Linked DNA regions of Homo sapiens: regions 1, 2, 3, 4, 5 and 6 are each linked to region 7. A link means that fine-mapping ties the variant in region 7 to the expression of a gene that starts in the linked region. Tissue or cell type: whole blood. Region 7 holds a variant in brackets; each other region holds the start of a gene. Each region is shown on its reference strand, or each on the opposite one. Region 1 holds the start of TMEM123 (transmembrane protein 123). Region 2 holds the start of CA4 (carbonic anhydrase 4). Region 3 holds the start of BCKDK (branched chain keto acid dehydrogenase kinase). Region 4 holds the start of CRACDL (CRACD like). Region 5 holds the start of GPBAR1 (G protein-coupled bile acid receptor 1). Region 6 holds the start of PHF24 (PHD finger protein 24). Region 7 overlaps IKZF1 (IKAROS family zinc finger 1).

The links. PIP is the estimated chance that this variant, and not a neighbour inherited with it, causes the effect.
Region 1: TMEM123 starts here. The variant in region 7 is fine-mapped to the expression of TMEM123 in whole blood (TOPMed, PIP 0.97).
Region 2: CA4 starts here. The variant in region 7 is fine-mapped to the expression of CA4 in whole blood (TOPMed, PIP above 0.99).
Region 3: BCKDK starts here. The variant in region 7 is fine-mapped to the expression of BCKDK in whole blood (TOPMed, PIP 0.99).
Region 4: CRACDL starts here. The variant in region 7 is fine-mapped to the expression of CRACDL in whole blood (TOPMed, PIP 0.98).
Region 5: it holds the start of GPBAR1, and the variant in region 7 is fine-mapped to the expression of GPBAR1 in whole blood (TOPMed, PIP 0.95).
Region 6: it holds the start of PHF24, and the variant in region 7 is the best candidate, but not a certain one, in a credible set for the expression of PHF24 in whole blood (TOPMed, PIP 0.90).

The regions. Positions count from the first base shown.
Region 1 is chr11:102,450,318-102,454,393 of GRCh38, reverse strand. TMEM123 (transmembrane protein 123) reads left to right here and starts at 1,629. Exons shown (of 5, transcript NM_052932.3): 1 at 1,629-1,870. The coding sequence starts at 1,771. TMEM123-DT (TMEM123 divergent transcript) reads right to left here and starts at 1,475. Exons shown (of 2, transcript NR_135053.1): 1 at 1,345-1,475. RefSeq lists enhancers at 1,266-1,375, 2,106-2,395, 2,576-2,625 and a silencer at 1,496-1,785.
Region 2 is chr17:60,148,262-60,152,337 of GRCh38, reverse strand. CA4 (carbonic anhydrase 4) reads right to left here and starts at 2,365. Exons shown (of 8, transcript NM_000717.5): 1 at 2,246-2,365. The coding sequence starts at 2,303.
Region 3 is chr16:31,106,348-31,110,413 of GRCh38, reverse strand. It overlaps BCKDK (branched chain keto acid dehydrogenase kinase), which reads right to left and starts at 2,028. Exons shown (of 12, transcript NM_005881.4): 1 at 1,935-2,028; 2 at 996-1,367; 3 at 835-903; 4 at 631-741; 5 at 290-337; 6 at 90-209; 7 at 1-13. The coding sequence starts at 1,190. RefSeq lists enhancers at 518-1,410, 1,411-2,304, 3,912-4,066 and a silencer at 1,636-2,175.
Region 4 is chr2:98,934,214-98,938,289 of GRCh38, reverse strand. It overlaps CRACDL (CRACD like), which reads left to right and starts at 2,065. Exons shown (of 10, transcript NM_207362.3): 1 at 2,065-2,352. RefSeq lists a silencer at 2,698-2,898.
Region 5 is chr2:218,258,992-218,263,067 of GRCh38, reverse strand. GPBAR1 (G protein-coupled bile acid receptor 1) reads right to left here and starts at 2,053. Exons shown (of 2, transcript NM_170699.3): 1 at 1,852-2,053; 2 at 1-388. The coding sequence starts at 343. RefSeq lists an enhancer at 801-1,606.
Region 6 is chr9:34,956,438-34,960,513 of GRCh38, reverse strand. PHF24 (PHD finger protein 24) reads right to left here and starts at 2,229. Exons shown (of 8, transcript NM_015297.3): 1 at 2,113-2,229. RefSeq lists a silencer at 2,102-2,181 and an enhancer at 3,531-3,670.
Region 7 is chr7:50,340,629-50,344,628 of GRCh38, reverse strand. All of the region lies in intron 3 of IKZF1 (IKAROS family zinc finger 1), which reads right to left. Among named protein-coding and RNA genes, the nearest start is that of IKZF1, 38 kb to the right of the region's middle. The variant T/C (reference allele first, on the strand shown) is at 2,014.

The DNA of each region.
Region 1 (4,076 bases), not on the chromosome of region 7:
GGATTACAGGCATGAGCCACTATGCCCACCCAAGTCCCACATCTTATTATCATCACCTTGAGGATTAGGTTTCAACACATGAATGTGGTGGGGATATAAACATCCAGACCTCTTATTCCACCCCAGATTCCCAGGCTATAAGTACACTGAGCCTTAAAGGAAGTATTAGCTGTGGGTTGGTGAAGAGAATTCCAGAAGGAAAGAACAACGTATGCAAATGCCAGGAACCAGAAAGCACCCTTCTCCATGGGCAACAGAACCAAGGCTGGAAAGACAGGTTGGGCCTAGATTGGGAAATGCTTGGATAATGGGGTAGTCACCAGAACGGTTTATTCCTAAACCAGATTCCCCAGTTAAATAGAATAACCAAAATCGAAATGTGCAATGCTTGCTTTTTGTCCATGATAAGCTGCAGGGGAAACATTTGCAGGTTGGCTGACTGAATCCACAGATGGAAGTCTCTGTAAATTTAGGACAGATTGTCTCAGTTAATCTCTAGGACCAGTCAGACCTCTGTAATGATGGATTTGCCTGACATGAGAAAGTTCTACCTCTCATAACACAGTTTTCAAAAGTTAACTGCAATGTGGCCTTTATGTGATGAAATCTGGCTCAGGTGCCAAAGATCTGCAACATTAAGACCTTTGCAGGTGGGGATTCACTGTGATTTTAGGTTCCTTGGATCCTTCAGTCTTCTACTTCAGCTGAGGGTTCCCACCCAAGCCAGGACTCAGCCTTTGTTATTCTCATGCATTAGCCACAGGTAGCTATGTCACTTCAGAGTTCTGAGCACGATGAAAATGCAGACTTTACAAGCACTTCAAGTCAAGACAAGTGATTAGCATTGGCTCCAAGGGTTTAAAAGGAACTCAGCCAAAAACTGTTCAAAACTGGCCATTTCATCTGAACTGGGACAGCAGGGCACAAGGAGAGAAAAGGCTGGTTGGATTAATGCAGCCCCCGCTTTCCATGGCTCTACTGTATTTCACTGAGAGTTGCTACCAACTCCTGCGCGCGCCCCCACCCGCCCACTCCACTAATCTCGTGTCTTAATCAGAGATACAGGGAACCCGTGGAGAAGATGAAGTACAACTGGGATAAGAAGATCGTAGGTGTTTTACGTTTGAATTTAAGCAACAAATCTGTCGAGCTGTTTTTCTCCACTTCCCCCTTAGGCTGGGTCACGCGAGGGGAAAGCTCCGACCGCCCAGGACTCCTTAGAGTGAATCCCATCCCCTCAAGTTCCTCTCCAGAATCTCCCCCTCCTCCCGCCTTTGCCCTGCAACTCCTCCCTCTCACTCTGAGTCGCACGCACCCCTGTCCCCTCCCTGCCCGCAAAACTACTCTTCAAAGGCTTCCTTCCGGGCACCGCGAAGCCAGCGTGCTCAGCATTCAGGGAGGCAGCGGCGCTCGCCTTCATCCAGGACAACAAAACTGCCATTTCCGAAGAGAAAGGAAACGGCTCGCGGTTTCTGGGGTTCCCAAGCGCGCGCCTGCGAGGGAGGCCGCGAGCCGAGTCGCCACGCCCAGAACCCCGAGCCCGCCCCCGCGCCACCCAGCCCGGCCCCGCCGCCCCGGCTGCGCACGCGACGCCCCCTCCAGGCCCCGCTCCTGCGCCCTATTTGGTCATTCGGGGGGCAAGCGGCGGGAGGGGAAACGTGCGCGGCCGAAGGGGAAGCGGAGCCGGCGCCGGCTGCGCAGAGGAGCCGCTCTCGCCGCCGCCACCTCGGCTGGGAGCCCACGAGGCTGCCGCATCCTGCCCTCGGAACAATGGGACTCGGCGCGCGAGGTGCTTGGGCCGCGCTGCTCCTGGGGACGCTGCAGGTGCTAGCGCTGCTGGGGGCCGCCCATGAAAGCGCAGCCATGGCGGGTAAGTGGCTGCGGGGGTCGTCAGCCCCGTTCGTGGGAGGCAGCGCGCTGCCGAGGCTTGGGTTCCCAAGTTGGGCTCTGGTACAGAAAGTTCCGCGTGTGTCTGGCCGAACGCTCGGGGCGGACCCAGAGGTGACCGGGCGGGGTGGGGGAAACTGAGGTTTGGACCAGTCACCCGCTGGCCCCGGGGCCGCCTGCTGAGGAAATTGCCTGGTGCTTCCCCTCTCGCTTTTTGGATGCGGCGGTCGCAGGCCGGGACGGGTGCGCATAACCTGTTGAGTTACCGCAAGTTGGTTTTTACAGCCTTTCCCTGAAGTTAATGTTTGCCGAGGTTAGAGTTTCTAAGGCTTCCGTTTGTAAACAAGATTAGCTGAGTTGAAAAATATGTCTACCTAGGCCCGCGGAAACGTCTCCCAGTTAGTCGGGGAGCTTTTCAAGCGTCCCCCAGGCATTTCAGCGTCTAATATTATGCAGTATTATCCAGATGAATTACAATCTTTAGGTCCCCCTGACGCTCGAAGTTAGACTTCGGGGCTCTTGGAGCTAGTTGGGAGCTTTTGGGGAGCGCGCCCCGCCCTCGCGGTAGTTGAGGCGGCCGCCCCCATGGCGGGGCGCTCTCCACCCCTCGTGTGCCATAAACACCCGGCCGAGGCGCGCGGCAGCTGCGCAGCGTTAAGGGCACAGCTGCACGGTCGCCGGTGGCCCTTGTCGTCGCTAGTAAGGTCGTAACAGGATGATGTTGACTTTGCTTTTCTGTGTAGGGCGGAATTTGTTTCGTTTTAGGCCCTTGGCCCTTTGGAGACTTCAAACAGCCCTTTTTGGATGAAACCAGGAAGTTGGGATTTGTTGTGTAAATACTGTTTTCCTTTGTCAACTGTTAGAGAAGTCAGGTCCCTAGGTAATGGTCAGTAAACTAGGATAAGTTAAGTAACCCAAGGTTTTCATGGTTTTAAGTTCTATCCATCCACTGTATATGTTAGCCTTAGGTTCGTTTTATCCAGCAAAAGAAAAAGGCAGTTTGTAAATCTGGAAGGTTCAGGCACAACACTTGCTTTTTCTGGAATAACCTGGGTGAATTAACAATTTTTCTTTGTTTTGCTGAAGTTTTTTTGTTTGCTTAATTGTGCGTGTGACAAACTGGCTTCGCAGACCTAATTTTGAGATCATTTAAGAAAAAAAGTGGTAAAATCATGTCCATCGTGTATCTTGGTCCTAATTTTATACCAATTATCTCATGAGGTGAGGTCTCCATTTTTAAAAATTTGTTGCTGTGTTTGTGAAGATAAGCCTTACTGTTTCAATGAATTACCGATTAGAGAAACTGTGAGTGACCATGCTTTTCTTTCTTTTGCCCTGATAACACAGATTTTTTTTGCCCTATTTTAGCACTGTTTGTTCTGTTTATTACTTAATGTCTTACTAGAGGTTAGTCCCATTTGCAAAACTTGAAATGCTCTACAGTAGGCGAGCCCTGAATTCATAAACTAGTATAACCAACCAGAGGTGGAATCTGTTTCTACAGACTATATAATGTCACCTTGCAACTAGACTAAAAGGTATACAATAGAAGATTTCTCAAAAAAGCTAGTAACTGTTAATCGTAGTCTTCATGTATAGTGTAATCTGTATACAATGTCATTACGAAGTATAGTGATTTTTAGCCATCATACTAAAACTCTTAATGGCTGATTTTTACTGGGTACATATTCTGTGCATCCCACGCTATGCTAATTTAGGTCCATAAATCATCCCATTGAATCCTCACAGTATCGTCCCCATTTTATAGATAAGTAAGCTAATTTATGGCAAGTAAAACAATTAATACATGTTTGGTTTCAGATCAAAATCCAAATTTTCAATTAACCATTTCACCACTAAGCCGCGTTAGATGATGATGGCTCTTGAAGTAGATAATACTTTTATTCCACAGTATTACCATTGCCTAGAATATTGTGGGAGAAGATAAAAACATTATTGAAATTCTGCTTTTAAAATATTCTTCACAGTCAGCTGCATAGCTTTATAAATATCAGTTGAAGGAGGAGGGAGACTATGAGCAAGTTTGCAAATCAGCAAACAGGATTTATTGTAGTATTCCAATGAATGACATTAACATTAACAGGATGGGAGGGGCGGCTGTTAGTCATTACTCTTAGTGGCAAGTGACAGAAACCCACCTTGAACAACTGTGGAAAGAAGGGACTTTT
Region 2 (4,076 bases), not on the chromosome of region 7:
ATGTCGGTGGATGAGGGTGGGGTGCTGGTGGCAGGAGCACCCACCACTCAGGTTCCTGTCTTCGTTGAATGAGAGGGCCACCCTTGCAGGTAAGTACCAGCCCACTGACTCAGGCCACTCCCAAGAGGGCTTGGGAAGGAGAGGGGCTACCTACCCAGAGGTCTCGGTGTCCAGCGCCACATCCTACCTAGTCCATCCACCCTGACCAGAGGTTAGAGACCGAAAGTCAGTCGCCTGTCACCCAGCTACTGCCCCCCACACTGACTGACCTGCCACCCCTCCCCCTTATTTCAAGATGGCTGAAGAAGCCTCTCTAATGGACCTTGCTCACCCCACCTCCCCCTCTGAGGGACAGGGGATAATCCTGAAAAACAGCTCAGCACAACCCAAGTGTTTCCTGGGCAAAGTCTCAGTCGCTCCCGGCCAGGGGTCTGGGGCTCTGAAGGGGACCAAATATCCTCACCCGGCCTCTTGTCTCAATGGACAGAGATGCTCTGGGGGTCGCCATATGCAACCTGGTCCCTTCTCAGCTTGAGTCCTCCATAAGATGAATGGAAGGCAGGTCCCAGTCAGAAAGCCTTGGCACTAAAGGGGATAGCAGCTTGTGTGAGGGGTGAGCTGAGACACATTCCTGACACTGGCCCCAGGCTTGGGGGAGAGCCCCATAAACTTGGTATATGACACACCAGCCACGTGCCACACAGGCACCGCACTAATCACTTAAACCCATTATCTTATTCAAACGCTTAAAACCCCTGAAGTCAGAATGACAACACCTGTTTTGCAAATGGGACAGGAAGTGACTTACCCAAGACCACACAGCTACAAAGCACCAGAACTGCAAAGCATTTCTCTTTCTACTTTCTAGCTGCTTAGTAGGTTTCCAATGTCCAACCCTACAAATAAAAGTTTCCACATTCTGCTTTTTCTCTTTCTTCTCCCAGGGGCCCGGTGGAGAGGCTGCAAGGTGCCCCTCGACCCTCTAAGACAGCTCAGCCAGTCCCTGCTGCAAAGGGCACACGCTGGCTCCTCTCTGTGCAGAGGACACCTTCACCCCTCACTCCGCCGCTTTGAGGATGGAGCACCTAACTTGGGAGAGGAGGTTTCAGCCTGCGTGGACCCCAAGAACCATCCGAGGGGTGGTTGGGCTGAGAACTGGCAGAGGGGGTCTTCCGGTGATGGGGTCTGGGGTTGCAAAGAAGGTGCCTCCAGGATCGGATCCCTGTGCCCAGCCGCTTGAAGCGCCTTTAGCTTCTTATCAAATATTAACATGCCTTTCCTGCCACCTCCCACCTAGAGGAATAATTAAGAGCTCGGCTTCACCATTAATCTTTAAACGAAAATCACCCTGTCCGGAAAGACCGGCTCCGCAGAGGCCTTGGGGCTCCGGGTCCCCCACCCCCCGCCCCCGCCAGGCTCCCAATTCAGCGCTGGAGGTTAGGGAGGCCAGGGGAGCTTGCGACCCTCAGGGGCAAGGAACCCGTGTGGGAAGCGCGGCTTCCAGGACCCTGCCAGACCGCCCTTGCTCTGGCCGCGGGGCAGTCACCCAGCGCTGAGTCCCAGCGGGACGGACGGAAACCCACGGGCAGACGGAGGAGGCTGGGTGAGAAAAGAAGGCGTGCGTTGAGGCGGGTCCGAGAAGCATCCTTTTTTTTTTTTTTTTTTTTTTTTTTTTTTTTTTTTAAACGGAGCACCAGGCTGGAGTGCAGTGGCGTGATCTCACTGCAACCTCCACCTCCTGGGTTCAAGCGATTCTCGGGCCTCAGCCTCCCGAGTAGCTGGGATTACAGGCGTGTGCCACCACGTCCGGCTAATGTTTGTATTTTTGGTAGAGATGGGATTTCACCATGTTGGCCATGCTGGTCTCGAACTCCTGGGCTCAGGTGATCCACCCGCCTCTGCCTCCCAACGTGCTGGCATTTCAGGCTGGAGCACCCGCGCCCGGCCTGAGACGCATCCTTATCAGGGACTCCCAACTCGTCTCGCCGGGCCACGCGCACACACCCTCACCGCGCACACCCGTGCACACGCTCCCCCAGCCGGTGCTGACACGCGTGTGCACACACAAGCTCGCGCGCTGCCCAGTCCTCCCGCACCCTCGCGGCCCCCGGCGCACACGCAACCCGGGACCCCAGCGCCACCGACGCTCACCGGTCGCCCGCGGGGGGATCCTCTGCAGGGGCGGGAGCTGGGGGCACGGAGGGGACCGCCGAGGGGCACCTGGGGCCGGAGCCCGGGAGCTCACCTGCACTGGCCGATGGCCGCGCCGCGGAGAGGGCCAGGAGCGCCAGCAGCATCCGCATCTTGCGGGACAGCAAAGAGTCCTCTGAGCCGGGGGTCGCGCACCGAGGAGGCCGCCGCGGGTGCAGCGATCCTGCCGGCCTGGGTTTTATAGCGGAGCCGCGACGGGAGGGAGCCCCGACAGCTGGACGCGGGAGGCGGCTCCTCCCCCTGGCGGGGCCTGCCCTCCCCTCTCCACCTTCCCCTGTCCCTCATCTGAAATCCTCCGCTCTCCCCGGTCCCCCGCCCTGCCTGGCCACCTCTTGCCCTGTGCGCAAGGCCCCCTCACCCACTCCGCGTCCTCTCCACTCAGCAGCGGCGCCCTGCCCCTCCCCCATCCTACTCCTGGTCCCTGGTTTGGGAACAGGGACACGACACCACAAAGTGCTTGACCCACACAAAGATGAGTGCCCCATGATGACTTTGATCATTCTGGCGCCACCCCTGCGCAGTGGTCTTGAATGGGACCTTGGAATGGCCTTGGGGTGGGGGTGGGGGTGGGGGTGGAGATGGCCTCGAAGAGATGAGAGGCTGAGGGGCGTGTGATGCCGTTTGTTGAATCAGTGGCCGCAGAAAGGCTCTCCTATCTCTCTTTGGCAGTGGCCATTGATTCTCTGGGTCTCATCTCTTCTATTTCCTCCCAGGCTGCTCCAAACTTAATTTCTAAGCAGACCAAAGACCTTTCTTCGAATACAGAGCAAAGCTGTCCCTAAACTACTGCCCTTGCTGGTGTTTATGTGATGACCAGGGAGGGTTGATGGGGCAGAATTAAGAAATGGATTGTAAGAGGATTCGGTGAGGGAGAAGCTGATGGGGTCAAAGGGGAGGAGCTAGGTTCTTTGAGCCCCCCAGGTGGAGAGATGAGATGGGAAGAGAAGAGACTGGGGTCTGAATGGACCCCTGGTTCTCCCATCTGGCAAGACCTCCAGAGGAGTCCAGGGGAAGTTCCCTTAAGGGCGGCTCCAACATTTGGGGAAATGGGGTCCCCCCCATGCCCCCAAGCTGCCTCTTGTCTCCTCTCTTAGCTGTGCCCTCCTGCTACTGCAGGTCCTCTGTGTCCCACATGGGGTGGGGGCTTCTGTGGGAGTTTGGGAAGCTCAGGCTGGGGTGCGGGAGAGGGACGGGGAACCAGGCAGTGGACCTGGACCTCCTCCATCAATCCATCAACAGGAAGCCCCCTTTTTCTGGTTTAGCCACTCCCCATCCGCTGCCAACCTCTCAGTCCCTACCGACCTTCGAACCTGGGCTAGGGACTTCTGAAGGGGGATTGCCTCCCCCAGAAGGATTCAGGCAAAGATGCTTCCTCCTTGCTTAGGGTTGAGGCTGACTCCCCGCTCCTGGCCCAGGATCACACAGCCTCACAGAGCAGCTTTGATCCTACAGAGAGGCAGGAGGGAGGTGAGGGGGTGTCCATGCCAGGCTTAGGGCTCTATTGTCAACACCACTGTATAATGTAATCACCAGCCTGCGACCATGACAGCCACAGGAGGGATTCCACACCCAGAGCCTATTCTGGGGAGTGCATTTGTGTTCACAGGGCTATAAAAATGTCCCTTTCAGGACTGAGGAAGCCTGTTCCTGGGAATAAAAACCACCCCCAGGGAGTCCCTGTGACCTCTGGCCAGCCCCCTGATGAGCAGGGGAGAGGCTTGGGAAACTTTGGTGGGGTTAAGGGACTGTTGATCAATGATCCACTTTAAAGTTCATTGCATTCAGGCCCCCCAGGAGAGAGGGGGGCCCTGGGTGCATTTTGGGACCATAAAGATGGGTGAGGAGAACGAGTCCCTGGTAGGGCA
Region 3 (4,066 bases), not on the chromosome of region 7:
CGAGCTTTTCATCCTGTAAAGAGTGAGGTCTCAGAATCCCGTGCCCTTCCCACCCCCAGCAGGCCCGGCCTCTCCTTTGCTGCCCCAACCTCTATGTGCTTCCGGCTCTCACGTAGGCCCTCTGCCAAGAGGGTCACCACATCCTTGTGGTCATCCAGCAGCTGTCGCACCAGCTGGCAGTACTGGGCCTCGTCCGCCTGGTCCTTGATCTGCAGGTCACAGAGTCATGAGGAAGGGTGGTCCAAGCCCAACCTCTCAGCCCCTCACCCTGCTCTGGCCCAGCACTCACCGGAGGGAAGTCTGTCAGCTTCTGGAAGGCACGGATATATAGCTCATGCTGCAAGGAAGAGGTGTGGGAATTCACAAAGCCGCATGGGCACTGAGCAGAGAACAGCCACCCCCACCTACCCATGGGGATCACCACCCAGCTGGTCGACCACGTGATCAAACCCCCACTTCGACCCTTCCAGGCTCCGTGAATACACACCTTTGGCTTCTGAAGGCCTGGGGTTGAATCCTGTGTGGCCCTGACACCTTTAGGCAAGCAATCGTCTGCCACTCTGGGCCCCAGACTCCCCACTTGCCCCCGGGGCAGGGTGGCCCGCTGACCTAAGGTCCTCTCTACCTTACCACGTGCAGTATGGTGGGGTTGCAGCCAATGATGAAAGGAAGGCAGCGGAAGCCCTTGATGCGGTGAGCAATCCTCACTGGAAGTTCTTGCTGCAGGTACCGAGCACTTTTCTGGGAGAAAATGAGAAGGGAAGGCGGGGCTGGAGCCTGAGTGTCTGGGAGAGCTCCAGGATCCACGAGGAAAATAGAGGGCGTGAATCTTACCAGAAGGTGGCTGCCGTCCTGAGAGCGGCCAGCGTAGAGCATCATGGTGGGCGTTAGGCGGACTGAGGGCTAGAGAGGGAGAGAGGCCTTGAGCAGAGAACCCCCAACACTCTCCCTCCCGCCTACATCCCGGACCCTGGGCTGGCTGCCCCCTTGCGCACCTTCTCCGCTGCCGCGTCGATGGCCGACTGGTTGTAAAAGGAGGTGACGGTCTTGGAGCGCTCCCGAGCCATCTCCACGTGGTGTGTGTCGGTGGCCGACGTCGAGCGGGCCCGGAGCGCGAGTGCGGGTCCCAGGAGGGGCCGGAGCGGAAGCCCGCCCCCGGGACCGCTCCTCAGCACCGACGCCAGGATCATCGTCTTGCTCCTTTCAGACCCGGTGGCCGCTAGGACTGAGGATCCGCTAGGACTGAGGACCCAGGCGACCCAAAATGGGGCAAGGGGGTGTGGGTGGGTAGGGGCTCTTCTCCGACTTCAGGGACCAGGGTGCGTCGAGGATGCTGACAGGCTCAGCCCGCGGAGAGCAGCTCCCATCTACCGGGGCGGGGAAGAGGAAGTTGTAAGGATCCGAATCCACAGAACCCGCACCATCTCTCCACCTGTGCATCGGTCTCCCCAGACCCGGGCGACCTCTCCCCACCACTCCCACCGTCTCCCCAGATGCACACAGGCCGCGCCCAAAGGACCTAGCCTCCCGGGGGCTTCTATTCCCCAACCCGAGGCTCTACTGGCGGTGGGAGGGCTGTCGGGGGAGGAGCCCCTCAGACCCTTCCAGCCCGAAAACCTCGCCCCAGCGCCCCGGGGTCCCGGGTACCCTTCTCAGGGGGCGGGGCTGCCCCTGCCTGCCCAGCGCCTTCAAACCCGGGCCCTGGGAGCGCGGCCAGCGAACGTGCGACACCAGCCCTGGGCCCCTGGGGCCGGCTTGGGAGGGTGCGGCACGGAGTCCCCAGCGGGACCCCCCACGCGGGTCACTTGGTTCGGCCCGGATGCCCCCCATATGGTAGATGCCAGCCCCGTCTGCGCGCCCGCGCTGTGATGGAGGCTGCGGACGTGCGCCGCGGGGCCTCCGCGGACTGAGTAGGCTGGGGTCGCCCCACTTACCGCGGGGCCGGAGCCAGGGCCCGGGTCCCAGCGGAAGGGCTCGAACAGTCCACTCGCCAGGCGCCCAGCCGCCTGCGCCCTCCGCCGCCGTGACGTCGCGTGGGCGGCAGCGCCCGCTGGGTCCTGGGAGTTGTAGTTTGGTCTGAGGACGTGCCGTCCCGGGCGCCCGCGCATCCAGGCCACGCCCTTGCTCCCGGACCCCAAACAGCACCGCTTCCTCCACACGGCTCTCGAGGCTCTCCGTGTCCCTCCCAGCCTCTATCTCCTGCTCTATGAAACGGGCTCCCTGGGAGCTGGAAGATCTTAGATGTAAAGCGCACAGATCACGCCCTACCTGACTCCTTCTCGGAGCTCTTGTCCTCCTTCCAGTTCTTGGTTCATTTATGGGTAACCAGGCTTCAAACCCCAGCTCGACCCCTTAATATCTGGAGCAAGTTATTTAACTGCTCAGTGCTTGGTAAGATGAAGAGATATCATCAGTTTTGGGGTTGTGTGGATTACATGAATTTATATGAGTGCCTAGAACAGTGCCAGGCGTGGAATTAGCACTATATAAGGGTTAGGCATTATTATTATTCACTCATGCCTGCAGATAATGCAAGTCGCTGACTGGGTGTCTTTTCTGCACCAGGAGAGGAGATTGGGCAGTGAGTTGAATAGATCTTTCCGTGCCCTGCATAAGAAAACAGTTTCAGTATCATTGGCTGTGATGAGGACTTTCAGAGGAGGCTGCGGGAGCCTCAGATAGAAACTGAGACAGCTGTGTAGGTGCAGCCTGAGTAGGACTTGCAAGGGAGCGGGGTGGGAAGGGTGTGTGGCAGGACAGACAACAGCCCAGATGGTCTGAGGATATGGCTGGAGCCATATGGGATCTGGGAAGGAGAGGGGCGGCAGCAGAGAGCGAAGGATAAGTCTGCATTTGTCCTAGGGTAGTTAGGAACTACTGAAGGGTTTTAACTGGTGGGCTCTCCTCCTTAGACAGAACCCCTTGTCTGCAGTGATTTAGAGTGGGGCGTTTGGTGAGACCAAAGGCAGAGAAACCAATAAGAAGACAATTACTTTAGGCCAGGCGCAGTGGCTCAGGCCTGTAATCCCAGCACTTTGAGAGGACGAGGTGGGCGGATCTCAGGAGTTCCAGACCAGCCTGGCCAACTTGGCAAAACCCCGTCTCTACTAAAAATACAAAAATCAGCCGGGTGTTGTGGCTGGCGCCTGTAATCCCAGCTACTCGCGAGGCTGAGGCAGGAGAATCGCTCGAACCCGGGAGGAGGAGGTTGCAGTGAGCCGATATCCCGCCACTGCTCTCCATCCTGGGCAACAAGAGCAAAACTCCGTTGCAAAAAAAAAAAAAATTATCCAGGCAGGAGGCGCTGGAAGGGACACGTTTCAGTGTGTGCACGTGCATATGTGTGTAGTGTGTATTTGTACTAATTGCAATTTTCTTTACCATGGTTATATATTTCCTAAATATGTTCAATAAAAAGTGCTAAGTGAAGCAAGTGACATCTTTGGAGGCTATCTTTATTTATTTATTTGGAGATGGGGTCTCGCTCTGTTGCTCAAGCTGTAATACAGTCGCTCCATAGTAGCTCACTGCAGCCTCCGACTTAAATGATCCTCCCACCTCAGCCTCTCAAGTAGCCGAGACTGTAAGTGTGCACCACTACCCCCAGGGTGATTTTTTCCCCCTCAGGCAATCCTTTTGCCACAGCCTCCCAAAGTGCTGGGATTACAGACGTAACCCACCGTGCCTGGCCTATTTTTCTTAGAGCCGGGGTCTCGCTATGTTGCCCAGGCTGGTCTCAAATTCCTGGCCTCAGCCTCCTGAGTTGTTGGGGTTACAGGAGTGAGCCACTGGGCCTGGCGGCTGTCTTTAAACTTGGAGGTTAGCCAGGTGCAGTGGCTCATGCTTGTAATCCCAGCACTTTGGGAGGCCAAGGCGGGCAGATGACCTGAGGTCAGGAGTTCGAGACCAGCCTGGCCAATATGGTGAAACTCTGTCTTTACTAAAAATACAAAAATTAGCCGGATGTGGTGGCATGCACCTGTAATCCCTGCTACTCGGGAGGCTGAGGCAGAAGAATCGCTTGAACCCGGGAGGCGGAGGTTGCAGTGAGCCAAGATCGTGCCAA
Region 4 (4,076 bases), not on the chromosome of region 7:
CTTTTGCACTTTTGACAAATCCTTACTTGAACATTTTAGTCTTTTCTTAACCTGGCTTCAAGGCTTGATCCAAAAGGCATTAAGGAGGGGAAGAGCCTCCTTGACTGCCAGCCACTTGGCAGGGCCCTGGGAACCAGAGCTCTCACAGGAAGATGAAAGTCCCAGGGGTAGGGGAGGGGCACAGTTTCTTTCCACATTTTTAAAGCATGAAGGTGCTTGCTCTACCAGGCTCCAGATAATTTTCCATTTTCCCAACCTATTCACAAAATTCCCCACCAGTTTCTATTTTGAGTGTTGACACCATGTTCTCGGCCTTAACTAATCACCAGGAACCTCGGTTTTTGTCTTCTGAAAACCTCCAGGAACTTCAAAAGCCACCCACAGAATACAAATAAAGCCAGAGGTTTAAGATATTCTGGAAACGAAATTCTTAGGTAGAAAGGCAGTTTATGGAGTCCATAAATATTTAGTAGTTACAGCGGCAAAAACTAACATGATTTTGAAGAGCAAGGAGCAGAGGCTCAAGGTGGGAGAGGAGAGAGGGGAGTATAGTTTTTGCAGTTGTTCAGTTTAGTTTGAGGATTTTGAAAAAAACAAACACACAGACACCCAACAAACTCGTTGTCTCTGATTGTCATGAGTCACCCATTCATTGTGAATGCAGGTTATTAATTTGGGGGGGGGTTATAAGGCTGAATCACTATTTTTGTTCTTTTTATACAGGGAACTTAAAGCACTTAACCATCAAAAGAGGCTTTTACGTGAATAGCTTGTGGCCAAGGGATAACATTAAAAATTCAAAAAGGAAACTTCGTTTGATATGCCCAAGTAAATGGGAAACTGTCTTGGGCCTCGTTTCGCTCGATTCTTCTATCTGGGATTTTGAGCCCCTTGAAAGCCACAGGTGGAGAGAGCTCCTTCCGGGGTCCAGGCCCTCTCGGCCTCCGACAGCCGAGCAGCTCGGCTTTTCCAGGCCTCCAGTGTGCGCGGCGCTAGCCGTCGGACCCAGCGTCCCGCGGAGTAGCGCGGATTCCGCGTGATCCCCTCCAAACAATGCGGACCTCGCCGCTCATTCTGGCGTCCGGTGACACCCGAGACTCCCCGTCTGACGTTAGTATCATCTCTTCCAGCCTGGGTTGAAGGCGTCCCCTGAGGACTCGTCGCAGCCTGGGCTCCCTGCTGGGACGCGACTCCCGCGCCTCTCGCCTGCCTGGCCCTGGGCGTGCACCGCCGGGGAAGAGGCCGGGACGGGGTCGCCGGGCTGTGCCATCCGCAGACCAAAGCCGCGGCTCGGGCTCCGGAGGAGATTCGCTGGGCGACCACCCAAGGCAGCTCCCTCCGTGCGCGGTCTCCCTAAATGGACCAGCCCTGTCTTTACAAGAAAAAGGATTTTAAAAAAAGAAGAAAGAAAGAAAATAAAGAAAGGCGAGCGCAGCTGAGACGGCATCAGCTGCCTTTCTTCCCACACTCGCCGGTGTCACACCCATGAATCACCTCCAGACGGGGCGGCAGCTTCCCTAATTAGCCTGGAGACGCTCAGGACCCACAGGGTTATAAAACAACAACAATAACAAACTTTTACTTTTATTCAAATGCACACTTCCTTCCCTCGGCGCCCACGCCCGCCGCAGGCCACTGACTTAGAGGGCGGATCCGGAGGTCACCTGGAGTCCCGGGTCCCTCTCACCGACGCGCGCGGGTGCCCTGGGCCAGTCCCGGACTGACTTGCCACCACCTCCGGGTCTCCGGTGCCCCCCGGCCCTCCCGGAGCCCCGACAGCGCCGCTGCGCGGACAGGCCGAGGCGGGTCGGGAGCGGCGCGGGCTTGGGAGGGAGCGCTGGGCAGCCGGGCCCGCACCCCGATTGCCCTCCCCGCACCCCGATCGCCCTCCCGCCTCCCGCGGGGCGTCCAAGGCCCAGGCCGGCGCCTGCGCCCCCCGCCCCGAGGTCTCGGCCCCACTCCGCCGGGCCAGCTGCGGAGGCGGCGTTGGGAGCTGTGCGCCGCGGGGGAGGTGCGCGCGGCGGCCGGCGAGGGGAGCTGAGCGGCGTCCGCCCCCGCCGAGCCGAGCGGAGCCGAGCGAAGCCGGCGCGCCTGCAGCTGGGAGCTGGGAGCTGGGAGCGCGCCGGGCGCAGGGCCGGGCCGGCCGCGGGAGGGTAGTGTCAGCGCCCGCGTCCAGCTCTTCGGCCGCAGACCCGGGCTGTCTGGAGGCCGCGCGGCCACCTGCTGCGTCGCCCCGGCTTTGGGCTGGGGCTAGACGCGCACCGCGGCGGGAGCAGCCCCGGCTCGCCGCACCCCGCGGAAGGTGCCCTTCTCTGCGCGTCTCGCCGAGCCCGGGCCACGCTCCTGTCCCAGGTACCTCGAGGGGTTTGAAATCGCGTGTCCCAAGGCAGGCGTGGGTCGAAGGCGGGGTGGGCGCGGGGGCACCGGGCGGAGGTGGGGCGGGCCGGGGCTAGGGGGTCGAGGGCAGAGGCCGTGAAGCCAGGGGCCCCTCGGACCCGGAGAGGCGCCACCCCCGCCGCCGAAGCCCTGGGCAGCTCCTGCGGCCGAGGGGGAGCCGGACGCGCTCGTGCAAGTGCCCAAAGTTTCCCTTTGCTCACTTTGCTGGACCCAACTTTCCACTGTGAGGCAAATCCAGCAGTTTACGCGCCAGGAAAATGAAAGAGGAGGGAGAGAAGGTCCTGCTCGGTTGAAATTGCTAGCATACGAGGTCTTTATGCCCACTGTCTCCACACGCAGTTGCAGGGGAAAGGAGTGGACACATTCACGAACTGCCTTATGCTTTAGGTGATGGTTTATTTAACAGGTTTTAGGCTTTGATTACACGCCACCCGGGAGGGATTCTGGAGTTGATCTAAGAAGTGTTCACATTTTTAATCAACAAATATTTGTTGAACAGAAGCTTCATCATAGGCAAAGATTCGGTATGAAGTTCACATGTGATCAGAGCATAATAGTCACTTGCTTTTGAAATGCAAGTCAGAAGCAGTGCGGCTGTGTGAATTTGACTCCGTGTAGGTGCAAACCGCCTGCAGGCATCAGGTCCTGTTGACAGTTTTGAGCCAGGAAATCCAAGTGGAAGACAGGCAGCTGTGTTACCCTTTTAGAGCCAGCTCACACCTTCCCAAACTGGTCTTAAGGTATCCTACTAGGTTATTGGAGCCTGCAGGCTTCCTTCATTTGCATATACCATAGACTAGAATCTGTGTAGACCCCTGGTATTTTCCCTGGAGCTCGGTCCCACGGGCGCACACCTGGAATGATGGAGCACTGTGGTCATCCTAAGAACCTATTGAGGTTATAAAATTGTGAGGAGAAAGATATCTAGAGACAGTGTCGTGTGGAGCTGGTGGAGAAGGTTGAGCTGGGCTGGTTTCTGGGCTCTGCCCCTATGCTGTGCCATCTTGGAGTCTGAGGCAACAGGAAAAATCAGGAACACTGATCCTGTCTTTATTTAAAAATGTGAGATTTTGTACATTAGGGATTTTTGTATTTGTTTTGATGTTTTAAAATATTGTAATAAGGCATTTATCTGACTGCATTTTTGGTACCCCCTTAAATTTTGTGCCTGTAGTGAGTACCTGGCTTGCCTGAGTCTGATTCTGGACCTCCTCCACGAGTCAAGTTCTTACTCTCTAAGCATCTGTTTCCTCACTTATAAAATAAAGTGTACCATCCATGGATGCTGCGCAGCTCAGCTGCTGCATAGGATGCGTCATGTGGGGCTCACTAACGGGTGGCTGTCCTGCTGAGATCACTGCTCTGCTTGGCCCTCTTAGGCTAGTTAAGATGAATCTTGGCTGGGCGCGATGGCTCACACTTGTAATCCCAGCACTTTGGGAGGCCGAGGCAGGTGGATTGCCTGAGGTCAGGAGTTCGTGACCAGTCTGGCCAACGTGGTGAAGCCCTGACTCTACTAAAAATACAAAACAAAAATAGCCAGGTGTGGCGCCTGTAATCCAGCTACTCGGGAGGCCGAGGCAGGGGAATTGCTTGAACCAGGGACGTAGAGGTTGCAGTGAGCTGAGATGGCACCACTGCACTCCAGCCTGGGCAGCAGAGTGAGGCTCAGTCTCAAA
Region 5 (4,076 bases), not on the chromosome of region 7:
GGACTGCCATGTAGCGCTCCCCGTGCACCAGCAAGAGGTTGGCAAGCAGGGAGAGGAAGGAGAAGTTGGGAGCCAAGTAGACGAGGAGGCAGGACCAGTAACCCCGGCGACTCTGGTTCCACAGCCCTGGCAATGTGGGCAATGCCAGACCCGTGAGCAGCCCAGCCAGCAGTAGGCTCAGGAAGAAGCAGCCAGCAGGTGGGCTGCGCAGGCGGCGGTCCCAGGCGATGCCCAGGGCTAGGAGCAGGTTCGCGGTGATGATGAGGCTTGCCAGGGCCAGGGAGAGCCCCAAAGCCCCCTTGGGAATGGGGCTGGGCACCTCGCCAGTGCTGTTGGGCGTCATCTTGGTCCTGGGGACAGGGGAGTCCTGGAGCGGCAGCCGGCATGCCTGCAGGATGGGGTGGCCAGAGTTAGGATGGGGCTGCAGGTCGTGTCCTCCTGGCAGGGCAGCATGTTAATCCAGGGGCGCAGACCCGCAGGCTGTGGGCTGTATCATGTTCGCTGATACACAGAATTTTTCAATTAATTGCCAATTAAACATTTATATAAAAAACTATCTTTGGTTTCTATTGAAAATTCAGGTCTGGCAACACATATGTCCTGTGTGGTAGCAACCAGCCGGAGCTCACTGCTGGCTGCCCTTCGGACAGTCCCCACCCAGCCAGCTTTATCCATTTCTGGTATCTGCCTTTTCTGGGCAGCTGTGTTGAGGTCTCTTGTTTAGACTGAAAGGCGGGCCCATCCAGCCCCAAAGCATTTTGTGTATCCCTGCCTCCACCGGGGAGGCCTCTAAATGAGAGAATGGACCAGGGCTGGCTGGTGTGTAGTGGTCTTCCAGCCAGCCATTAGGTGACAGGCTCCAGCGGGCCAGGTCTCGGGCACCCTGCACCCTTCCCCCCATCTGTCCTTGTAGCCATCACAGCTCAGTGAGCAGCCTCCGGGTAGGACTTCCAGCCCATAAACTTGACTCGTCTTTGCTCCACACTAGCAACAGGGTCCTTCCTGGGAGCTGGAGGGAGGAGAGAAGCAGCTGGAGGGCACGTGTGGCAGTGAACGTGGAGATGCCAGCAGCAAGGAGAGGGACTCCCCCACACCCCCAGGCCTGAGGCTGAGCCCAGAGGAGAGGGAAGAGGAGTCTGGGCAGAGTCTGGCTTCTCTGTGGCTCTCATCTGTCCCTGTCCTTCCCGTCATTCCCTGGTCTCAGTCCTCCAGTGTCATGGCTCTGCTGCCACATCCTGGGGACAGGGGGAGGGGTCCTGGGTCCTGTGGGAACTCCTGCTTCTGTCAACAGGGGAGCAGCTGCTGTTGCTAGGATCCAAGTCAATAAGGAAAGGATTCATACCTCTCCCCTCCTCCAGGACAGGGGATCAGGGCCCCATGGCTGCCCTGAGCTGAGAGGAAGGAAGATGCTCCCCTTCCTTCCCAGGTTCCCCCAGCACCCTGAGCCTGGGCCTCCAAGGCCTTATGCCCCCTTTCCCCTCCCCTAAGCATGTTTTCTCTTTCTCAATCTCTTCCAGTGCCCTCCACCCAGGATGTCTTTTCCTCTCTAGAGGCCTTGCAGTTTCTGTTCCCTTTCCCAGGGCATCATCAACTCTCTTAAGTCCCGTGAGACTCAGGGTCCATTACCCCAAACCTGGCCTGAGCTGGAGCTCCCAGCCCTAATCGGAATGATTCCCCCCAACCCACCTCCACTAGAACAGCGACAAAGGCAGGGAGCAGCCCCCAGGGGTGATTTCCCAGCAGGGTGCAGGCTGTACCACCTGCACACCCCCGAGGGTCTGGTGGCTTGGGCTGGGTGTAGTAGCCTCTCCAGGATCTGGGGTTTGGGGGTTTGGGGGAGTAGCTACTCACATGGCTGTTGGGAGCAGGTATTGCCTGCCCAGCCTGGGCCTTCCTGAGTGTCAGGGAGTTGCTGCAGCCAGCCCTGCAGCGGTTTGGACCATGTCTGGTGTCCTGGCTGAAGAGCACAAGTGGACCAAGTGCATGGTGTCTCCACCCAGTGGGGACAGCGGGGCCAGGCTCTCCTACCCAGGCTCTGCCCGTCTGGGTTCTCAGAGGGATAGAGAAATGAGGCTGGCAGGACTCAGCCCTGGCCCCGCCTCTGGGAGGGTGGGACCTGACATATTCCAAACTGCAGCAACTGGGAGGCCTGCCTCCCCCTCCCACCCAGTTCCCCTCTCCCCCTGCCACCTAGGTGGCAGTTTCCCTACTCCAGCTCGGAGTAATCTGAGAAATGCATTCCAGTTAATGAATAATAATGATTGACTTACCCCTCCCGACTTCCCGCCTCAGCTGATGCATTTACATTTAAGCCCCTGGACTGGCCAGCCAGCTGACAGCACACCAGGCTCCCTCCACACTTCCGTGTGTGATGGTGGCAGTGGCAGGTGTTTGGGGCCTGAGGATCTTCACTCCCCCATCCCATCACCTGATGGGCCTTTCAGTTTCTAAGGCCAGACTTGCCTTCCTGAATCTGGGGTCATTCCACACTTTTCTCAACTGCTTTCTGAGTCAAGTTCTGAACTATGAGGGACAAATGGCTCTGGGGATGTGACCATGGGTAAGGTACTACTGGGCCTCGGTTTTTGCCTGTGTTAAAATGGGAACAAGAAAAACCACCTCTAATTAAGGTCGTGGTGGGGAATATCACAGGATAACACATATGGCGGCATATACCCCAGTGCATGGCCCTTGATGGGTGGGGGTTTGCCCCAACAAATGGCTCCCTCTCTTTCCTCCCCCATGATGAAGAGGCATGAGCTGGCGCTGGAATCAGAGCTGTCTGGATCCTTTTTTAAAAAAGCCAGTGAACTTGGGCAAATGACTAAAGTTCCCTTGCCTTAGTTTCCTCATCTGTCAAATGGGGCCCATAGTTGTACTCACCTATCGTGAGACTAAATGAAGTCCCGTGTGATGAGGACTCAGATCAACACTTGGCCCTTCAGCACTCCGCGACAGGCAGCGATCGCTGGGAACATTATTAGGATTTCTGCCTTTCTCTGCACCTGGCCCCTCTAAGACAGATCTGCTGAGAGGGGCGCATGGGGAGCTTGGGAAAAGCAAGAGGGGAGTGACACTCTTGCTGCACAGGGAAGCTGAGGAAACCAGATACATTGAGAGGGAAGGGCAAGTTCAAGGCTGGGAAGCCAGAAGTGGTGCTTTGATTTCCACCTTGTATCAAGTGCGGCTTTGGAGTGAGGGGGAGGAGAGAAGCCCAGCCACACTCCCTTAAGGCCTGAAATGGGAGGGAACAGGCGGAAATTGCAGCAGGAAAGCTGGGACTGGGGGTGAGACATTAGGAAACACTTGCTGGCTGAAGAGCGCAAGTAAATGGAGCAAAGGGACTCTGGTGCTCTCCGGGAGAGCTGGGCCTGAAGGGCTGGAAGCCCGTGGAGTGTGGCTGTGCCAGCTCTGCACAGCCAGTCAGGGATCCTGGAGATCAGGGACTTCTGTTGGGACAAAAAGTGGGAAGAGGAAAGCATCCAGCCTCAAGTCCATCCTCGAGGGAGCTGGTGGGTCGGAAGGACGCAGGGTTCCAGGGCCGGTCCTCAGAACCACGGGATCTGGTCGGGCAGAAGTCACAGGCTCTGGGAGAGTTCAGCCTGGGGCCTGGACAGAAGTGGGTGTGGGACCCTTCTGATATGTGACTTCCAGGAATAAACAGACCTCCTGTTCCCAGCCCCAGCCTGCTCCCTGTGGGATCCAGGATGTCTGTTTCTTCTCTGCTGCTCTGTCTAAACACTGTGTGTGGGATGTGTGTGAAGGGGGACAGATTAGGTAGTGGCAGCCAGGGAGCCTGGGCTGTCTCCTGCTCAGCCTCATTTCTCCCTTCCTAGATCATCTAGTTCCTGTCTGTTCCATCAAGCCCTGGGGCTGACTCACCCCCTAGCTTCTCCCTTCAGCCACGGAGGGCTCTGGTGCAAGCCGTCTTCAGACGCTCCATCCAGCTGACTGTGCCCGGACCCCATTCTCCTTTCCTCAGGCAGAGCCTGAATGGGGGTGACCAATTCAGACTCTGGCATGGAATCCTCCTGTGCCTCCTTTGTCCGCTTCCATTCTCTTAGCTATCTGAATTT
Region 6 (4,076 bases), not on the chromosome of region 7:
AGATGGGTTTGAACTGAAAGGGGGATTATAAACAACTTTACAATGGGGAGGTCCTAACCAACAAAAACCTTTGTCGGGCTTTACTCCACTGAGTTGCGCGCAAGGTAGCATCACTGAGTTAAAAGAAAAAAAATCTAACAACTGGTAAACTATGTTGTTCTGTTTTCCCACTAGCTTGGTCTCTCTCCTCACTATGTAATTCCAGGAGCCAAAGGAAGCCACTTCTGTTCAAGGAGGATTTAACTAGGTTTGACTGTGTGGAAGAAAGCAGGGAAGGGGAGCAGGAAAACCCTTCCAGAATGGCTCTAATGAATATCATTGCTTGGCCCTCTCACCACTCCGTTTTTGGACAAGAAACCAGAATCCATCCTTGGAGCTCAAAGTTGAACTCTTGGGATTCAGCTAGAATGAAAACAACGAGGGGGCGAGATGAGGAGGCAACACTATGTCTGGCGCAGACCCTTTGCGCTCCCCCTAACAGACTCCCAGTGAGCCTTCCTTGGCTCTGCACCTTTCCTGTCCTCCTCCTCCTCATGCAGAGGCACTCTTGGGCAAAAGTGTCCTGAGTGCTATCTGTGGACCATTGTCCACCGGTGCATGTAGTCAGAGGGTCACAAGGACAGTGTGGATCGTGCTTCCTAAAAGTGATCCTGTCTCTCCTTTCTCTCCTTCGAGTATTCGGTAGCAGGTAGGGTGGTCTTGGGACACTCCATCCGCAGAAGGGTCCCCCTAGATCCCCAGAGAAAGCCCTGTCAAAAACCACACCCAGAGGCCTCAATTAGGTCCAGAGCCACCCCAAGGCATCATGACAGTGGGACTGCCAGTGAAGGAAGCCACACCCTGAAATCTGGGGATTCTGTGGAAATCAGTTCCTGCAGCAATCTCATGGCCAGTTAAACTGTCCTCATCCACTTATTTAATCATCACATTTACTGAGCTTGTACCACTGCAAAACCCTATGCTCGGCAGGCACCTTAATGCAACTTATTAACAAATATCTATTCTTTCTTCTGCTGCTCCTTAGTACTTTTTCCCAAATAAAATTTGAAAAACATTTTATGATTATGTTTTTCATCAGCTTTGTGACCTTGGGCAAATTGCTAAACCTCTCTGAGTCTCAATGTTTAAAAGGGGATAATTTCACAAAGCTGTTGTAAGAGTTATATGAGATGTTTAAACATACCTAGTATACTGCCTAGCGTACTGGTGCTCAACAATCCCATACATCCTTTATTCCTTCCTTCAAAGGCCTTTCCCTCCAGGACCTGCCAAAGTCAGTTATTCCACCTGATCTTACTGCTTCCTTCCGCACGGTCAAACCTAGGGGCTCAAATCTCCTATCTTTGCTTTAGAGGCCTCACTGGTCCTCATCCTCGGCTTAGGGCCCTGTGCTCTCGCAGCAGTTTCTGTCTCCACTAAAATGCAGCGTGGAGCAACTGGGCTACCATGGAGAAGAAAAATCCGAATGGGGAAAGAGGAGGAATGGAAAGAGGCTGCAGCCCTAGAAGGCCCCCACCTCTGGGCCACGGTGTGGGGATACAAGTAAGGGCACATGGAACCCTACAGGGATCCCGGTGGAGGCCAAAGTCCTTGGAGCCGTGGGAAGTCACTCATGGATCCCATGGGAGGATCCCCCTCCCCAGTCAGAGGTTGCTTCCCACAGTTCTAGGGCACAGTCTCAGGTCCTCCTTTTCTAGGGAGCCCTCTGGGGGCTCCACCACCTCGAGGTTCCTGCGGCTCCCCTATGTTCCCAGGTGGTCTTCCATTGAGCCAGCTCCAGAGACCACCCTTGTGCCTGCTCCCACAGTGACACAGAAGGGCTCTCTGGGGCCAGTCCCCTCCACGCTGGGGCTCCCTATGGCAGCAAATGCAGACAGCGCCGCGGGAGTCCATTCCCACAGGGGGTCTTTATGGGGGCGGCTCCCCACAGCACCTCAGGGACTCCCCCAAGGCGTAGAGGCAGCAGCTACTTGGGGTTCATCCAATGACACAGGGGGGCCACCTTGGAGGCGGCTCCCACACAAGCACCTCAGAGTCCCGGAGGACTGTCCGCGGCCGCAGACCCGCCCCTCAGGTGACGGCCCGGTCCCCGCCGCCCCCGCCCCCGCTTACCGGGACCGTCCGGGTGCGGGACGCGGCTCCGGGGCGGCGGACTCTACACACCGCGGGCCCCGCGCAGCCCACGGCAGCCCGAGAGCCGGCGTGCTGGGCCGAGCGCCGGCAGCAGGCGGCGCGGGCGGAGCGGCAGGCTGAGGAGGCGGCGGCGGCGGCGGCGGCGGCGGCGGCGCGCGCGGCCGGAGCACACCCACCCGCCCCGGGGGGCTGCGGCGTGTGCACCCGCGCGAGGTGCCCTGGGCCGGCCGGTGGGCGCGCCCCGCCCCGCCCAGTCCTCTTGCGCCTCCAGGAGACGCCCTCGCGGCTCCGCGGGCGGCGGGTGACCGGCGACGGGCGCGCGGGCGTGGGGCGCCGTGGGAATGCGGGAGGACGGCGGACGGCTCCGATGAGCAGACGGCCCAGGTGCCCGTGGGCGCCCCCCACGAGCGCCCGGCACTGCGGCGCGGGGACTGCGCCAGCGGCCGACTGCGGCAAGGACAGTGCCCGCCCGGAGGAGGCGGCCCGGAGGGGGCGCCTTGGGGGCGCTGGGGCCGCTCACCGCTCGCGTTCCGCGCCGGGGGTTGGGTGGGGGGAAGGCGGGGTCCGGGTGGATGCCGCCACCAGCACGTGCCCGGGGTGGGGAGAATGACTCATCCAGCAGGGCCTACCAGCCGTCCCCCGCAGGGCTCCGGGCTCACGACCCCTGGCACTGGGGCACTCACCTTTGCAGTACCCCACTGGCCTCCGGAGGGTCCCAACGAACCTTCACATAATCCTCGGCTGGCCCAGCCTACCCTATGCGCTGTTTTCTGGGATTATTGGTTTTTCATCTCCAGCAGCGAGGCTGTGCTGTCGTGTAACCCACTTTTTGCTGCAGCAACCTCATCCCTCACAATATCCAAACAGCTAGCTTGTCAGAAGGCCAGCAATTCTGAGGGCTATAATGTGCATTACACCAAACTACATGCTTTGAAGAGGGCAAGAAAAAGATAAAATCGTAAGATAGCCAGCAACTAATTATAAGGAAAAATTGAAGATATGCAAATGATATGTCGAGAGCCCTTTAATTTATATTAATTGCACTTACATTTTTAAAATACCTTTATTTTCTTGTGCATTCAATTTATTTACCTCAAATATAATGCATGTCATTTTTTTGAGCGTCTAGTATTTGTTACATACTGTGCTAGGTACCCTGGTGCGATATAAAAAAGAAATTTTGCCCTTAACATGGAATTTACCAATAGAGGATATAAGGCAAGTATGGTATATTTCTATCACTTTAAAACACGAAGTGCCAGGTACTATTCTAAATGGTTTAAATATGTTGTCATTAATTTTCACACCATCCCTTTGAGGGAGTCTACTGTTAGTTTCGACATTTTGCCAGTGATGAAACTGAGGCAAAGAGAGGTTAAACAACTCGCCCAAGGTCACATGGCTAATATGTGATGGAGGTGAGACTGAAATTCAGGTATTCTGATTTCATACCGCAAGCTCCTATTTCTCAGTCCTGCCACTGAGAAAGGAGAGGCTATAAACCATTAATATATGGAGTTCTAAAATTAGTACTTATTAGTTCTAAAATTAGTGCTTATTTCTCAAGAGACACTATGGTTATTTTGCTTGTTGTGAAACTAGCACTAAAAAGCAGACTGAGCCTTCCATATAGTCTGGGGGTCCCCCCCTAACTTTCTTTAGAATTACATCATACCGACAGTTTCACAGATAGACTTCTCTGAACTGTTTTTAGTAAGTGTTTTATTTCTAGGCTGTCTGATGGGCTTATATGGAAAAGGAGGTTGTAACATCATCATATAAATCTCTGTCGGTTAATTCCTTCCTTCATTCAAAAAAATTTATATTGTGGCCAGGCGTGGTGGCTCACGCCTGTAATTCCAGCACTTTGGGAGGCCGAGGCAGGTGAGTCACCTGAGGTCGAGACCAGCCTGGCCAACATAGTGAAACCCCACCTCTACTAA
Region 7 (4,000 bases):
CATGAGGTACAAAATAACGGGAGTATAACAGCTTATACATGATTGTACTTTTAGCACTGATGCAGAGGAGTGGAATAATTCTAGATGTGCTCAGATGAACTTAGGCAAATAGTTTGGAAGTTGTAAAATGTGTTTCCCAAAGCACAAAAAATAGAGAGGCAAAATGTGGATGACTTGCCCTGTGGGTTGGGGATGTGTGAAGAGAAGGAACCTGGCTTAGAAACACTGCTGATTGACTTCATAAAGGAGTCATTGGAAGGGACAAAGAAGTAAAGGAAGACAACATCAGCGGATGTGGCCTGGGTCATCTACATGTGAGGACAGTCACACACTAGACACAAGGCAAAAGGTGTGTCTTTTCTGACCTGGTCATGCAGATTAATGAGTTTTTGAAATACCACTTTACATGTCATATACTTAGGAAAAAATATGATTTCATTCAATGTATTTTGCAGATGAAGAAAGAGGAGGTAGGCCTGCCCCACACATCCCGATTCTGGTAAGGCAGAGAACTGAAGCTTAAACCCAGGACTTCTGCTTCAAAATCTTTTACAACAAGCTGGGCTCACCTTCTGGAGGATTTTTTGGGGGTTTGGGGAAAAAGAGGTGGGTAAATTTATAAGTCAGCTCAGAAAGCAATTCTCACGACTTCACAATTAAGCCTTATTTGTGAACAAAAAAACAGCATTCCTCAGGTTAAGTTAGCACTTTATTCAAAGGTCTAGGCTCTAAAAGGATTTTGGACTATTTCTAAAAGGAAAATAAAACCCAGACTCAAATATACAAAAGCAAGTGCTTGGGTCTCTGAAGGTAATCAAAACAGGGAGATGCAAAATAAATGTGAGTGATGAAAAAAATGCGGATTCTCAACGTTAGGTCTTCCAGGCATGTGTGCTGGTGCATTAGGCCTTCAGCCCATCACTGCTGCACTGTATTACACTCTAGGTACACTCAGTTAAAGACATGAAATGACCATAGCTAGAGACAGTAACATTGTAACCACAGCGTGTCTTCTCCTGGCACAAGCCTCTTGTACAAAGAAGTAGTTCTCCTTGTCCACAAATCTCAAACCAGGAAATCCCTAATTCATTTAATGATCAGGAAAATGCAAGAGATTTGTGTAGTTGTGACTCTTCCAGTTACTCCCCGCTGTACCATTATTTTAGGTTACCTATCACACAGGATGGTGTGCCTGATGGCACTGGCAGTCATTTCTCTATGTCTTGTAGAAAAGTTTACTCCTGGGAAAAACAATTTGGTCACTAGTCCTTGGACCTAAGTAACAGAATCTTGATGAAATGGTACCCATGATCAAATGTTAAAAGGAAGAAAGGGATGGAGAAAAGAAGAGAGGAAGGAAGGAAGGAGGAAAGGGAAAGAAAAAGGAGGAAGGGAGGGAGGGAGGGGAGGGGAAGGGAGACGAGGGGAAGGGAGACGAGGGGAAGGGAGGGAGGGTGGGGAGGGAAGGAGGGAAGAAAGAAAGGAAGGAAGAAAGAAAGGGAGGGAGGGAGGAAAGAAAAAAAGAGGAAAGAAGGAAGGAAAGAAAGGAGAAAGAGAAAGGAGGAAAATTAAAAAGAAAAAGGAAGAAAGGAAGGAAGGAAGAAGAAAGACAGGAAGGAAGGAAAAAGGAGGAAAGAAACAAAAGGGCAAGCAAACAAGAAAGGTCAAAAGACAGTAACGGCCCAATCAAAGCTTCCATGACGAATCTGTGCCTTTTTGGATCATGGTGTACTCAGGAAATGCAGCCGCCACAGGAGCACACGCTGTCTCCTGAACTGCAGGAAGAGCAGCGGTTAGCAGCAGGAGGTGTCCCTTTCACAGGAAGGCTGGGGTCTGGGCTGCACACTGCGGAGCAGATTCACATGCCAGGGTGGCCCCGCTTGGGCTATGAGGACATGGGTGCCAAGGTGGAACTGCTTTCTCAGGCTGCAGGCAGGCAGCTTGCTGCTTCTCTTTCTCTCTTTGAAAAAAAAAAAAAAAAGCCTTTCCTTCACCACCTCTCCTCGGTTGCTT[T/C]ATCAGGTTGCAAAAGCATCTTTTAGGAAGTATCAAGGGGCATCACTCTCCACAATTTTTGCAAAACAATTCCATAGTTGTGATGGTGTCTGTCTTTGCAGCTTAGTTTACTTACAGCCTGTCCTCAAGGGCGCTCTCTGGGAACCTGCCTCATGTCTATAAAGCAGCTACCTCATTTCAAAAATTTAAAGAGGACTTCCCAACTTAAAAAAGTTACCATAGAGTACATGGGAATACAATGAAGGGATGAAGACAAAAATTAAATGTCATGTTTTTCTACATTTAATTCAGCTACTTAGCTTTGAAAAACTGATTTGTTTGACATGTTCACATGTTGTTGTATTCTCGTTACTTTGTACTTAACCAAAATGCCTACAAGTACAAGACCTGTACTTAAAACACAGCTACATAAAATAAACCCAATTGATGTTAAAATTGGACTGGACCTAGATTTTCTTTACATCAAATGTGGGCAAAAAATGAAAGACTTAAAAAGCAGATGTTCACATACATTTGTGACAACACTGAGAAAATGTTTTGAAAAGCAAATTGATTTAAAAACTACTTTTAGAGAGTTGATAAATGACTAGTCTTTGGCTAACATTCAACAAGGGTTAATCTAAAAAGTTTTTTTTTTTTCCACAATATAATGACACACAGTTCTTTGGAGCTCTCAAGATCTGCCTGCCTGTCCAATAGGTAACCCCTAGCTGCATGTGACTCCTGAGCACTTGAAATGTGACCAACCCAAATTGAAATGTGTGGTGAAGATAAAAAAAAAATACATCCGGGGTTTCAAACACATAGTTCAAAAAGAGTAAAATATTTCATTAACAATTGCTTATATTGAGTACATACTTAAATAATATTTAAGCATACTGAATTAAGAAAATATATTCAAATTAATTTCACCTGTGTCATTTTTCTTTTTTAATGTGACTACTAAAAATGGACCAGCAAATATGCAGGTCAAATTATGTTCCCCTTGGACAGTGCTACGCTGGAATTTCTGATTTCTATATTTCACAAATAATGTTCCACAGATGCTAGTTATCATCCATCTGTAAAACCTCTGTCCCTCAAACAATGACTGTTCAACGTTGTTGCGTCTCATAAGGCATAAAGCTGGGCTAGGACTGTCTGCCTATGTCCTGATTAGAAAGACTCCATACAGCCTGGATACGGTGCCTCACATCTGTAATCCCAGCACTTTGGGAGGCTGAGGCAGGTGGATTACCTGAAGTCAGGAGTTCGAGACCAGCCTGGTCAACGTGGTGAAACCCCATCTCTATTAAAAATGCAAAAAATCAGCTGGGCATGGTGGCGGGCGTGTAATCCCAGCTGCTTGGGAGGCTGGGACAGGAGAATCACTTGAACCCAAGAGGTGGAGGCTGCAGTGAGCCAAGATCACACCACTGCACTCCAGCCTGGGCTGCAGAGTGAAACTCTGTCTAAAAAAAAAAAAAAAAAGACTCCATACCCAACATTTAAAATATGTGTGCAGGCACAGGGCAAGCAGATTTTAAGGGTATATTTTTAGGAGACTCCATCAATAATAAAACATGGTTATTGAAATGGGAAAAATTAACTAACACATATAAAACCTTAACAGAAATTTTTACACTTAAAGCTACAAAGTCAAATATAAAAATCAGTGTTGAGACCATATATAAGTAGCAATAATGCTTTAAAACTGCGAGTAAATGCAGCCTTTACAGTGACAAAAACAACTCCATTGTCATCTCAGGATGAAAGTCACTTCACTTAGATCACAGCATTCTCTACAGAACAATAATTTCACTAAGGATTACTTGCACCATAACACTAAGATTAAGTAAGGGTGGCTACACCTGGTAATAGTTAATTGTCACTAAACATTATGGACAGAGTAGAAATGCTTGGGGGGCACTGGCAGATTCTTAATTTTATTGCCACCAAGTTCAACTGGAGAGCACAGAGATATTGCAAAAGCAGTCAAAATTCTGCC